Homo sapiens: one gene and its partner. The protein of the gene in region 2 purifies or fractionates together with the protein of the main gene of each other region. This does not show direct contact. Each region holds a gene or a part of one and is shown on either strand. Other genes may lie near its edges. The genes, in order: KDM3A and GOLM2.

What was found.
Region 1: the proteins of GOLM2 (region 2) and KDM3A purify together in Homo sapiens (affinity purification with mass spectrometry; one large-scale study listed by BioGRID and IntAct). This does not show direct contact.

What each region holds. Positions count from the first base shown.
Region 1 is NC_000002.12:86,465,338-86,469,168, reverse strand, and holds part of KDM3A (lysine-specific demethylase 3A), read right to left. Parts: intron 2,798-3,831; coding exon 2,286-2,797; intron 1-2,285. UniProt on the Homo sapiens protein: Histone demethylase that specifically demethylates 'Lys-9' of histone H3, thereby playing a central role in histone code.
Region 2 is NC_000015.10:44,413,281-44,416,381, reverse strand, and holds the end of GOLM2 (protein GOLM2), read right to left. Parts: intron 3,047-3,101; coding exon 2,976-3,046; 3' UTR 624-2,975; downstream 1-623.

The DNA of each region.
Region 1 (3,831 bases), on a different chromosome or scaffold from region 2:
AGCAGGACTAGACCACATGTAAATTTCTACATGATGCTGTTAGTCCTTGATCCCTTAAACACTCCTACTCAGTTATAGTGAAAGAGAAGGTAAAGTAAGAAAGGAGAGAAAATAAAGAGATTAGTAGTTCAAGGATGTAATTTTAATTACTCAGATATTGAAAGACATCCTTTGAGTTGAGCCAGGCTTCCACAGATCACAGGCAAGAAGGTTATCTTATCTGTTCTATCCTGGCTCACAAGAGGAAATATCTAGAAACAAGAAAGCTGAACTGTCTAAATCTAGCTCTTTACTGAGGAGAGCAACAGGTGCTACCATCAGTGATTCTCTGAATTCAAAGCCAAGTCAAGAGAAAAATGCAACGCCCACTTCCGAGGAGCCACGTATCTATCTGAACGGAAAAAAAGGCAGCTGTTTGACTCCAGTTTGCTTTTGTTTTCTAGACCCCAAGTGGAAGAAAGGAGCAGAAAAGTTTTCCAAGCCTTCTGTACTAACATGCAGTACTAGTGGACACAGCTCAGAAGTCCCGGTAGGCTTCTGATCACACTCTCACACCTCAACCAAAAAAAAAAAGTCACAGTAGATAGCAGGATGTGCTACTCCAGGATGTAAGTTTTTCACTTCTTTTAAAATCCATTAGATGGGGAATAGCTACATAACATATTAAATGAGACAAAGCTGGACTCCGTAACTCACTTGTGTATCTATCATGTGCTTATTGCACTAGAATCTTTACTGTTTCGTCACATAATATTAAATTTGCTTCAAAAACTAGCTGTGTGTGAGAGCTGATGATTCAAAAACAACAAATAGAACAAGGATATGGTTATGAATATGTACTTTCTTTTGAGTGTTACCTAATTTCTGAGAACAGGATAATCTTATGCAATTAATTTTATGCAAATTAACAGCTATATTAACTTAAGCCTCAATGAAGAAGCTAGGTTAGAAGTATTGCTAGGCAAAGAAAGTTCTTTCTATTCTTCCAATGCTATACTAAAAAGATTCGCAAGTCAAATCCAGCCATCTTGCCCTCTAATTTCACAGAGGCCTGCAGTTAAAAAGATAGTGTAGATATATTCATTTTTACTGATCCAAATAAATAAATTGTTTTCGTAGGTTGTTTTCGTTTGTTTGTTTTTTGAGCCAAGCTCTCACTCTGTTGCCCAGGCTAGAGTACAGTGGTACAATCATAACTCACCGCAGCCTCCAACTCCTGGGGTCAAGCAACCCCCCTGCCTCAGCTTCTCCAGTAGCTAGGAATAACAGGTGTGCCCCACCATGCCTGGCTGATTTTTAAAAAAATTTTTTGTGGAGATGGGGTCTCACTATGTTGCCCAGGCTGGTCTCAAACTCCTGGTCTGAAGCAATCCTCCCACAGTGGTCTCCCAAAGTATTAGGATTACAGGTGTTAGCTACTATGCCCAGCCTAAAACATTAACAAAATCCATATCAATTTCCCACATAGCTAACAGTGATCAAAAGGCATCTTTAAATTCTAATAGCTCTAAACCTTTTGACATGCTGAAAACATTTTGTTCTTCTAACTCTAGTAACAGAGCTTCTGATAACTACCACCATTATAATGCATCCTCAAACTTCATATAAGTAGCATCAAGTACAACGTACCAATTTCCCCATAAGAAGAGTAGTTTTAAATTGTGGGTGCAGCAGGACCTCCCCTTAAGCAAAGAGACTCTTCCTGGTAGTTCAGCCCTATCCGTAACATCTTTAACCCAAGTCCTTTTTCCAGAAATGATACAATTCTGCATCTTTTCTAAAATTTCAAATCTTAGCTACCTGTCACAGATCACCTCTTCCTACTCCAACCTGGATGTAACAGAAAGATCAGTGACAAGCTGAAATAAAGTAAACACCAGATTACTTTAGATTTTGTTTCAAAATTTTCTTAACCTAAGAATTGGGAACCACCTAATTACCCACCTAATAGGAACCAGTTAAATCCTATGGTAAATGAACATAATGGAATCCTTGCTTTAAAATACTAATAGACACCTACACTAATTCACAGGGTAAAATTATTGGCATGAACCCATTTGTGTAATACAGTTTATCTGTATTTCTATATACATGAAACCAGGTACACCAAAATATTAACAGTAATCGTTTCTGAGATTTGGGAATTATACCTTCTTTCAACTTTTCTGACTGTATAAACTATTTCTACAAAGTCATTTTCACATAGTTTCTCATAGGACAAGAAAGAGATATATATATCTACCATTTCTTACCTTCTACCAATAAAGATATTGAGAAACACTCACCATTCTGGATTTTATTGTTGCTTCTTGAACAACAGCTTTCATTATCTACTTTTACTGAAGATTCCTTTAAATTCTGTGATCGGCAAGCTAAAGCTGAAGGTTCTACCTTTTTTCCTGAACAGTTATTAGGGCTATCACTATTGACACCTGCTTTCACTTCTGGTGCATTTGAAACATCCGATGGGGAAGGTGCATGTTCTAGGTGCTTCTGCAGTTCAGGAGGATTGGCAATTTCCAATTCTGCCTTAGAAGAAGCCTTTGTAGGTAAGCACTCCTTAGGAAGGCCAGTCAATGCTTGTGGAACAGACTCCAATCTGTTTTCCTGATCAGTGTTTGTCTTAGGCTGAGTACAGCTGCCTTTTGGCTCAGTCAGAATTTTCAAGTCTCCAGTTCCAATCTGAGAGGACTTTGAGAGCAACCCTGCTTTGCAGACATCTGGTTTTGTTCTCAGAGCTTCAGACTTTGTATTTAGACAGGAAGAAATTTCCTCTGGTAAACTTTGTTTATGACATCTGAAAAATATAATATAGAAAGCTAGCATCCAGGCCTCTTTTTATCTCTCCATTATCTTCCCCAAACAAACTGTTTGGTTCCCTAAGGTAACGAGTATGAAAGAAAAAAGAAAATTTCTCATATGTTACAGAATTTAGGATAGATTTCTGTGAGCTAGAGTTAAAAGTCATCAGTCAATGGTTCTGCAAAAATCATAAACACTCAGAAAAATACAACCCTAAATTATGTCTGCACGTTCTCAGAAATCTTTAACTTCTTACGTTAGTTCTACTTCTCACAGCACAATGAACCTTAGCTTTCCCTCAAAACAAAATATTGTATGAAACCAAAGAATATACTCAGCAGATAAGCTGGTTTATAAGTATCAAAACCAGAAGTCTGTGTAGGGGCAATTCCGAAAGTTTTCTTTCTTCTTTTTTTTTTTTTTTTTTTGTGTGTAAATTTCAGAGAAACCTCTGCTAAAACTCTTTCTTCTATAGTAAAGATTATGTTTGAATTTTAAAGATAAAACTCCATTCTTGCTACTTGCCAAGAGTCAAAAATTGAACCTCTAGTAAAGGTCAATGTGTCAAGATAAAAATTCTAAAATATATACGTATATAAAAAATGTTAGAAATCCCTTCAAAGATATTCACACAAAATCTAATTAAAAACGAACAATGGGCAAGGCACAAGGGCTCACACCTGTAATCCCAGGATTCTGGGAGGCCAAGATGAGAGGACTGCTAGAGGCCAGGAGTTCATGACCAGACTGGGCAAAATAGCAAGTCCCCCATCTCTACAAAAAAATTAAAAATTAGCCTGGTGTGGTGGCACGCGCCTGTAGTCCCAGCTACTTGGGAGGCTAAGGCAAGAGGATCAATTGAGCCCAGGAGTTCAAAGCTGCAGTAAACTTAAACTTTGACTGTACCACTGCAACTGCACTCCCTCCTGGGCAACAGAGCAAGATCCTGTCTCTAAAAAACCTCAAAAACTAAAAAAAAACTAACAAACTGGCAGCAGCACAAAACCCTTTTCTGCTATGAGCAACATG
Region 2 (3,101 bases):
ATTTAAAGTTGTCTTGTTCATTTGTTTACTTGTGTATTGTCTGACTGCCCCCACTTGAATGTACGCTCCATGCGAACAGAGACCTTGTCTATCTTATCCACTTATCTTAATACCTAGAACAATGCTGGGCACATAATAGGCATTCAATATTTGTTGAATAAACTAGACCTACAGTAAAGAGCCCTGGTGTAAAAATATTTGGTTTTCAGGACGGGTATGGTAGCTCATGCCTGTAATCCCAGCACTTTGGGAGGTCAAGGCAGGTGGATCACCTGAGGTCAGGAGTTTGAGACCAGCCTGGCCAACATGGTGAAACCCTGTCTCTACCAAAAATACAAAAATTAGCCAGGTGTGGTGGCACGTGCCTGTAATCCCAGCTACTTGGGAGGCTGAGGCAGGAGAATTGCTTGAATCCGGGAGACAGAAGTTGCAGTGAGCTGAGATGCGCCACTGCACTCCAGCCTGGGCAACAGAGTGAGACTCCGTTTCAAAAAAAAAAATTTGGTTTTTTAGTTTAGCTTAACTTAAAATGAGTGCTAAACTTACTCAGATTTTAGTGTTAAAATGTATTTACATCATGGGTGTGATGTTTGTGTATGTATTAGAATCAGCAAAACAGTGAAACAAGTTTAATTTTTAATTTATTAGAACCCAGTAAATGATGATTTTAAAAGCAGAGTTTCCATCAAATTAACACTTAATTCAGGGCAAAAATACATTTAAAAAACCTAAATCTTAAGGCAGAAGTAAAACATTATAAAAACAGTATGTCTAATACAGACTGTAAAATGTCAGATTTTTAAGAGATTCACATAGTATTTTATAGCACTAAAATATTAATACAGTCAGAAATATTATCAATTGGTCCAAGATTTCTGTTTATAAAATGTCTAGACTGCTAATTGAAGAAATGTTGCTGTATAAGTAATAGCTACAATACAACCAACCAAGTGATTGTTTTTATGACAAAAGAACTAAGGCAGGTAATTGCATGGTTTCCATTTGTAAAGCTTTTGCAGTATTAAAATATAAAGCATTACTAGGGGTATTTTTTGATTCATCTCCCTACCCTAATGCCCCCGAAATGTACATCACTTCCCTTTAACTCTATTTTAAAATTCTGTGAAACCACCATACCTATTCATTGTAGGCCTGACCCTATAAAGGCATGAATTGTTTAATTTGATATGGTAGAAAAACAATTTTAGTAAACTACTACATCTTTTCCTAGTCATTGAGCAATTTCAAACAGAAGTCTTAAGAATTTTTGCACCTCAGCAAGTGAACAACCTGTTTCTTTACCACTATAAGTTTGAATTTTGCCTAGAATGTGTTAGTACACAGGGGAAAACACATTTCATGTTTATGTGCAATTAACAGTAGCCCTTCTGAAAAACAGGGTTAACAATCTTAAATTTCCCCTTGTGATCAAAACCTTTTGTTTTTAGGGGGCAGGATAAGATTTAAAAGTGCTTTAAATCAGAAAACAAGAATTAGCTAGCTTACACATTCCACTGAATAGTGTCAAAAAAGATAAATGCATTTAAAATAATTTGTAAGTCTAGCAAATATAAGCTTGACGGGTTCTTAACTAACATATTAAGTAATTACAAAGATTCATTTTTTTACAAACTTTTAAGCTATTTTAATAAAATGGCTATAGACCTCACTGTACTTCTATTTATCTGTGCATTAATAAAAACCTGTTAAAATTCCTTATTTAGTACTTCTGAAAAAGTCTAATCAAATAAGATCACTAAAATTACCAGAAAAGCTTTGAAATACTGATTGCAGATTCATTTCAAAGTAGATTTAACCCCTTTCAGGATCTGGTGTTTAAATCATGAATGTCTTCACCAACTTCAACTCTGAAAATATAAAAATTTTAGCCAGTTCTGGCTATAGTTAAACAGTACTGGTATTACTTGAAAAAATAAAAATTAAAAATATATTGTCAATCATGCATTCCACAATTTCAAGAACTAAGATATAACTCATAAATACTGTTATGTCTTTGCAGGTTATCTCAATTTCCATCAGGCCTCAGCTGAAAGCTCATCTGCCAAAACACATCAGCACTCATGTAAAATAAAAGGAGTAGGGAGGTGACTTTCTACACAATACTGTACAGTGTTTGGCTTCCAGTTTCCCTCTTGTGTGTAACTATTCTAGGTATGACTCCTTGAGCGTGAAATGAGGGGTAGATAGAACAGAACAGCTGTTGGGCTAACAAGAATTAGTGTGTAGACTGGGCGCAGTGGCTCATGCCTGGAATTCCAGCACTTTGGGAGGCCAATGCAGGAGGATCACCTGAGGTCAGGAGTTCAAGACCAGCCTGGCCAACATGGTGAAACCCGTCTTTATTAAATATACAATTATTAGCTCTCTATTAAAAATACAAAAATTAGCTGGGCATGGTGGTGGGTGCCTGTAATCCCAGCTACTTGGGAGGCTGAGGCAGGAAAATTGCCTGAACCCAGGAGGCGGAGGTTGCAGTGAGCCAAGATTGTGCCATTGCACTCCAGCCTGGGAAACAAGACTAAAACTCTGTCTCAAAAAAAAAAAAAAAAAGAATTAGAGTATAAAAAGTTTTCTGCTGAATATCTGTTCTGTTCTTACTGTGGTTATGCTATGCCACATATAACCTGTACAACTATTTTGTCCTGTTTATCTATTTGTGGAAATAAGTCGGCTCAATAAAATGTGAAATATACATTAGTTTGCTTTAGATGCAAAGATTAGCTGTTTTTGGCTTAACTGTATCATAACCAAAAAAGTCTATACCTTGATAATACAATATGAAAAAGTTCACATATGTACATGGGTACATTCCTTCATTAAAGTTTTTCCTTAATTCTATCTCAATGTATCTTTACAACTGATACAATTCGTCTTTACAACAAAAGTCAGAAAGGACAAAGTAGAATGATTTCATTTTACAGCACTTTAGGTTTTCTGAAGCATTCCTTTAGGACTTAAAGGACATCATTGAAATGTTGCTTTCCATAGTCTGCAGGATCCATTTGAAGCTCTCGTTCTTCATCATCTGTAAGTAAAATAATTTTGTATCAACATATTATTTTTTAAATCACTGCAGAAAT